Linked DNA regions of Homo sapiens. The protein of the gene in region 1 purifies or fractionates together with the protein of each later gene. This does not show direct contact. Each region holds a gene or a part of one and is shown on either strand. Other genes may lie near its edges.

Evidence for each region.
Region 2: the proteins of NEK8 (region 1) and MTR purify together in Homo sapiens (affinity purification with mass spectrometry; one large-scale study listed by BioGRID and IntAct). This does not show direct contact.

What each region holds. Positions count from the first base shown.
Region 1 is NC_000017.11:28,735,230-28,738,886, reverse strand, and holds part of NEK8 (serine/threonine-protein kinase Nek8), read right to left. Parts: intron 3,648-3,657; coding exon 3,516-3,647; intron 1,582-3,515; coding exon 1,373-1,581; intron 1,213-1,372; coding exon 1,151-1,212; intron 1,069-1,150; coding exon 887-1,068; intron 793-886; coding exon 642-792; intron 217-641; coding exon 140-216; intron 1-139. UniProt on the Homo sapiens protein: Required for renal tubular integrity. May regulate local cytoskeletal structure in kidney tubule epithelial cells. May regulate ciliary biogenesis through targeting of proteins to the cilia.
Region 2 is NC_000001.11:236,798,157-236,801,813, reverse strand, and holds part of MTR (methionine synthase), read right to left. Parts: intron 1-3,657. UniProt on the Homo sapiens protein: Catalyzes the transfer of a methyl group from methylcob(III)alamin (MeCbl) to homocysteine, yielding enzyme-bound cob(I)alamin and methionine in the cytosol. MeCbl is an active form of cobalamin (vitamin B12) used as a cofactor for methionine biosynthesis.

The sequences.
Region 1 (3,657 bases):
CCAGAGCAGGTGCAGCTGGGAAGCTAGAGGAACCTGTGGTTGCTGGGAACTCCCCTGCCCCCAATCTGGTGTCAACTCACAGATGTGGGCTCCCCGCCATCCCCCGACTTCCCCTTCCCAAGGTATATGTGACACCCACCTGGCTGATGTCAGTGAGGCTGCCATGGCCTAGGCACCCATTGCTGCCGCTGCCGAATGTCATGATGATGCCTCTGTCTGGGGAGAAGGGCAGTGAGGAAGGAGAAGGGAAAGAAGTTAAACAGTCTTTCCAGATAGCCCGGTCCTCCAGTGGGTTGCAGCAGCAAAATAAAGTTGGGGACCAGGGCTGGAAGGATGGGATAGGAAGAGAGAAAAGGATATGAGTCCCTTCAAACATATGTGACTTTGGACAAGTGACACCCTCTCTGAGCCTTAGCGTCCCCACTTGTCAAATGAGGATAATATAATAACTGCCTTGCCAGGCCTGTCCGTAGGGTAAAGGAGGTTGTATAAGGAAATCTCCTCAATAGTTACTAGACAGAAGCAATAACTCGATAACTAGTAGACAGAAGCATTCATTAAGTGCGTGTTTTGCAAGAGAAGAGAGAAGGTGCTCTGTGGGGCCTCAGAGCAGGTCCCACAAGGTAGGCCCGACAACTCACCAGTCAGGCAGGCAGTGAAGAAGTCCCCACAGGCCACGTGCTTGATGGTCACACCCGACTGGCCCTCCAGGAAACGCGAGATGAACTGGGGCTGTGGCTGCTCCACTGCCCCAGGAAGGAGACTGCCTCCGCCTGCACCTAGGGGTGGGGCCTGCAGGGGCAGGGGGATGGGCAGCGCCTGAGCACCCCAACCCTGCTGTGGACCTCCACCTCCACCCATCCAGGCCACCCCCTGGCCTGCTCACCTCCCACAGGATGAGACGCCCAGAGCGCGTGACGCCGGCTTTCTGCGTGCGCCCAGCTGCCACCTGGACCACCTCTGTGTTGAGCATTGGCAGCCGCAGGGGGGTGCCCAGCCCACCACCCCAGGCATACACTGACGACAGTGGTGGTGGGATGGCTGGCCTCACAGGTCCCCGGGGGATACCTGCAGGTACAGTGCATGGGGACTATTAAACTGATGGGAATGGTGTGGCATCCATGGGGACTGGCGGCCTCTTCCCACTTACCTCTGCAGCGGACACTGGTGGTCCTGCTCCCTGTGTTGCTGGGGGCCACGGACTTCTCTGCCCTGCAGGACAGATGGGGGCCTAAGGACAAAGACCCTCCTGACATTCCTACATGCAGGAAGGGAGGACTTGCCCCAGGTTTCCCTCTGCCTCAGACCTCCTGTGCTCCCACTGGGTGCCCACACCCTGCCGCCCAGGACCGCTCGCTGTCCCTGCACAGGCCTCCGCATGCGGACACTGCCCACGTCGGTGTGGAGGTTGAGGAGGGCACGGATGCAGAGGGGCTGTGCCATGATGTGGCTGAGTGGTGGCCGCTGGGCAGGCTCCAGGCTGAGTAGACTCAGGACCAGCTGGCGAAGCTCAGGGCTGTACCGGTCAGAGATAGGTGCAAAGGTGCCACTCATGATCTTCAGCACCAGTGCTGGCAAGTTCTGTGAAGGCACCAGGTTGAGAATTTGGGGAAGTGAGGGCAGCACCCCCCAGCTCCAGCCCCTGGTCTCCTGGGATAATAACAGCTTTGCCTGGAGGCATCATGCTACCTGACTTCAAACTATACTACAAGGCTACAGTAACCAAAACAGCATGGTACTGGTACCAAAACAGAGATATAGACCAATGGAACAGAACAGAGCCCTCAGAAATAATGCCACACATCTACAACTATCTGATCTTTGACAAACCTGAGAAAAACAAGAAATGGGGAAAGGATTCCCTATTTAATAAATGGTGCTGGGAAAACTGGCTAGCCATATGTAGAAAGCTGAAACTGGATCCCTTCCTTACACCTTATACAAAAATTAATTCAAGATGGACTAAAGACTTACATGTTAGACCTAAAACCATCAAACCCCTAGAAGAATACCTAGGCAATACCATTCAGGACATAGGCATGGGCAAGGACTTCATGTCTAAAACACCAAAAGCAATGGCAACAAAAGCCAAAATTGACAAATGGGATCTAATTAAACTAAAGAGCTTCTGCACAGCAAAAGAAACTACCATCAGAGTGAACAGGCAACCTACAGAATGGGAGAAGATTTTTGCAATCTACTCATCTGACAAAGGGCTAATATCCAGAATCTACAAAGAACTCAAACAAATTTACAAGAAAAAAACAACCCCATCAACAAGTGGGCGAAGGATATGAACAGACACTTCTCAAAAGAAGACATTTATGCAGCCAAAAGACACATGAAAAAATGCTCATCATCACTGGCCATCAAGAAATGCAAATCAAAACCACAATGAGATACCATCTCACACCAGTTAGAATGGTGATCTTTAAAAAGTCAGGAAACAACAAGTGCTGGAGAGGATGTGGAGAAATAGGAACACTTTTACACTGTTGGTGGGACTGTAAACTAGTTCAACCATTGTGGAAGTCAGTGTGGCGATTCCTCAGGGATCTAGAACTAGAAATACCATTTGACCCAGCCATCCCATTACTGGGTGTATACCCAAAGGATTATAAATCATGCTGCTATAAAGACACATGCACACGTATGTTTATTGTGGCACTATTCACAATAGCAAAGACTTGGAACCAACCTAAATGTCCAACAATGATAGATGGATTAAGAAAACGTGGCACATACACACCATGGAAAACTATGCAGCCGTAAAAAATGATGAGTTCATGTCCTTTGTAGGACATGGATGGAGCTGGAAACCATCATTCTCAGCAAACTATCGCAAGGACAAAAAACCAAACACCGCATGTTCTCACTCATAGGTGGGAATTGAACAATGAGAACACATGGACACAGGAAGGGGAACATCACACACCGGGGCCTGTTGTGGGGTGGGGGGAGGGGGAAGGGATAGCATTAGGAGATATACCTAATGTTAAATGATGAGTTAATGGGTGCAGCACACCAACATCGCACATGTATACATACGTATCAAACCTGCACGTTGTGTACATGTGCCCTAAAACTTAAAGTATAATAAAAAAAATAAATAAATAAACAATAACAGCTTTGCCCTCAGGAGACTTCAGTCTGATGAGGAGACTCCCAGACTGACAGGGGAGTCCAACCTGGCTTTCAGTGATCCCTAGTCTGATAGGGGAGCTGCAGCTATATCCTCAGAAACCCCAGCATGCTGGGAAAACTCAAGTCTTGCTCTTGGGAGGGTCTTCTGGGAAAGCCACAGCCCTGCCCTCAGGAGCCCTCCGTCTAATGGGAGGCAAGACCTACTCTCAGAAATCCATAGTCTGAGGGACACCCATAGCCCTCCCCTGGGGTAATCTGATAAGGGAGAGACATGACTCAGCTAGAGGAGAAACCTGAGGTGGCTTGAGCCAAGGGCTGCTGGGCGAGGCAGTAGATTTCTCAGTTGTCCCCTGGAGGGTGCATACACTCACCGCAGCCTCGAAAGCCCTCTTGAGGCTGGCCAGCTCGTAGAGGACACAGCCCAGGGCCCAGATGTCACTCTTCTGGTTGTAGGGCTTGCCCTCACACAGCTCAGGGGAGATATAGCATGGGGTACCCACCACCTGCAGGATA
Region 2 (3,657 bases), on another chromosome or scaffold:
CTTCAACAACTCCCTATAGCATATCAGACTGAATACATGTTACTCAAAACAAACCATAATGACGCCAACCCATTCCTTCTGTGCTAAGAGGCGAGAAAAGCTCAAGTCAAATGGGGCTGGTTCTAAGCTATCTGAGCTCCTTGGAACTCATGCCTAGCAACACTAAGGTCAGTACTTGGCAAATATTTCTTTAATTGAAATGACAAAAAAGTGAGGGAAGATGAGAAAGAAGAGGCAAAGATAATTTAAAACCCAAACCAGTAATGTAAGAATATTTGTAAGCTGGTATTGGGTGCAAACTTACAACCCTGCCTCGTCTTACTGTCCAGAGTCTCAAGTATACAATATGAGAACTGGGGCTAAATGGTGGTCACAGAACTATTTTGAGTGACTTTCTCCAAGTGGGCTTCAGGAAGGTGGCTCTAGTAACCTAAAAGAAAAATTTGCAATATCCAATATCTAGTTTCTGGGCACTATGTTTCTTTCAGGGTGTACTATTCCTTTCCAAAGCCACCTCACTTGCTAATTGTGTTTACTGAACTTGCAGGTGAGATAAAACACTTCCTGATAAAGGAACGAAGTTAAGCTCCAATGATCTGTACAAAAGTACTTCAAGAACCAAAGAAAATCACTTCTTGGGAAATGTGGAGAAAAGGTAGGGCTTAATGAAGCATGTATAATAGAAAGACTGGTAGGCATCAGGCAGTGGGCGCCATTTCAAGCTATAGTCGACACGGTAAATTCACATGTAGTGTTAATTTAGGCACTCCATGATGTGACTATCCTATCAGCCAATAAGCACTCAGAATTTGATAGGCTTAAGCTAATAGTAGCAGGGTGTGAAAACCCAAGAAATCTGGGTTTTAGCCCCAGCTCCCCTTAGTAGCTATGGGATTTTAGACAAGTCCTCTCCATGCTTCAGCAAGATGAGGAAACATCAGCCCTGCCTTCATCATCAGAACTGTGATACTAAAATGAGACCATGTGTTAAGAACTGGACCTCTTAAGTCACACAAGTCATGAAATGAGACATTGGTGTTTGATGTATAGTAAACATCTGATAAATATTAGCTACTCTTATTATGTTGGTATTATAGCACAGCAAGGACTGAAGCTCTAAAGATTGTGTTCTATATATTACAAAGCTCAGTGGGCTGTGAAAAATCATGTAAAGCCTGAAGCTCTCAGTTGGTCATGTTGGGGCAGGAATGGCATATTTGCAGGTTGGGAAATGTCTTCTAACAGTCGAGTGAAAGAAGAAAATACTCAGTGAAAGCTGTTAAATGTAGATAATTTCACAGGAGGAATGAGAAGACTAAGAACTAAAGACTCTAACCTACATGCCCAGCTGAATCGCTTTCTTCTCAAAAGGATGTAGCTGCAATTCTCCCTGAAATGACATCACGTGAACTTAAGTGGGTGACTGAATCATAAGCCTAGTGTGAGCATGAGGTGTGGCAGTGGGGAAATAGGTCATGCACATGAAATTTCATATTTAAAAGGTATTCAAACTTCCTAGGGAGAAAAAGGCAATCTTTTCCACAGACAGTGAAGTATGTCCTTTGGCATCGGCAAAATGATTAATCAATATCAATCAATATCCTATTATTTACATGTCCTTCTTCCTATCTCCTCCACTGAGCGAGTGCACACAAGTTGAGCAAATCTAACCACTCAGAGTGCCTCCACCCCTCATTTTCATAAAAAGTCTTAGTACTTTTCCATGGGGCCCTTACTGTATTCCCTTTTCAATCCAGAAATAATAAGCTTTGTTTTTGGACTTTAAGACAGTTCACTATTTACCACAAAACAACCCAGCCCCACACATGCAAATTCTGGCATCTTGTTTGTTGAGCCACCGTATAGGCAAGAGATCAAAAGCTGTTTAAAAACATCTGCTTTGGTTTTTCAGAAACCTGACAAACTTATTGTATAATTTATTGGGAAGAACTTTATGACTTCGAATGAAAAGGAACTTCTTAAGACTCAAAAAGACCAACCTCTTAATTTAAAAAAAAAAAACACAATGAATTTGATTACATAAAAACCAAGGATTTCTGTTAAACGAAAGTCACCATAGACAAAAATAATAGACGATGGGTTGGGGGAGATTCTTCAATGTCTAAAGCTAATTTGTTTTCTTATTGATTTGTGTTAGTTCCTTGTACATTCCAGAATGTAATATACAATGTGAATTAAAAATACCTATAGACTAGAGTTTACAACAAAATGTATAAATATATGGATATATGTGAAAAAGGCGGTCTATGGAAACAAGAGAATTGTGAATAGAAAATACAGATAAAAAGGAATATATAATAAAACACAGGAATTTTGCAGCCTGAATAAAAAACTCCTATGCAACTGAGGCCCTTAAAAATCCATTACTTGGGCTGGGTGTGGTGGTTCACACTTGTAATCCCAACACTTTGGGAGACCAAAGTAGGTGGATCACTGAGTCCACGAGTTCGAAAACAGCCTGGGCAACACAGTGGCCTCATCTCTACAAAAAAAAAAAACAAAAATTAGCCAAGCCTGGTAGTATGCACCTGTAGTCCCAGCTACTAGTAAGGCTGAGGCAAGAAAACTGCTTGAGCCTGGGAAGTCGAGGCTGCAGTGAACCGTGATCACGCCACTGCCCTCAGCTTGGGCAACAGAGTGAGACTGTCTCAAGAAAAAGGGGGAAAAAAAAAAACATAGTTTCCTCAACTACTTGCTTATTTTTCCTTTAGAGGATAATGTAAGATTTCCCATTTAGAGAAACTAAGAAGTCTTCCTTCAGAAAATCTGTTGGTATTAAGTGTTCACTATTTTTAGCCTTCTGTATTCCTCCAGTTTTTCCAGTAGGAGGTCATTTTTCACTGGGCTTTAATTACCATTCTAATTCACCAGTTTCCAATTACTATCAGAACTTGCTCAAAAGAATAAGTCACCTTGACAATTCCTTCCCCTGGCAGAGTGGGGATCTACTGAAATGTCACTCTTCCATGAAGAACAACAAAATTGTATTTATCTGTATTCAGTTCATTAGGTCTAGAACATTCTGTATACTTAACTACTGACTAGTCAAGTTCTAAATAAAGCAGATTCTTTCTGATTATCTTTCACAGTAAATATAAGAATATAGTTTTGCAGTTCCTTTACTTAGCTGACTAGTTATAACACTATTTCAGAAATATTTTTATGTTTAATGTATATATGTAAATAACCGCAGTGCAGAGGAGAGTCCCAAGGAACATCCTTGGCTAGTGAGCCTAAGAGATCACACAGTATTTTCTCCAGTTTTGAGTGGATTTAGCCAATATATTTTGTGGGGTTTTTTTCCGTGCCCTTAACATCTTATTTTCTAGCTAACAATATTCTGATTCACAGCAAGTGTTCCAAAGAATAAACATAGGTATAAGTGGTTAAAGCCCTAGTCAGATTTGGAGGGGGGTAGACCAGCTAGTACCACCTTTAAGAACTAGCCTAAAGAATGACAAGATGAAGGCCTAAACAAATAAATTCCTAATATGTGCATGTAAGTTATAAATTGCAGTGTCAAGAACACATCTGCTCTGAAGGTAAAATGACCCCAAATAGATCTGACTTACTTAGGACCCCTCTTTCCACTGTGCTAAATGGGGAACACATACAGCAAAAGCACATTTTTATTTT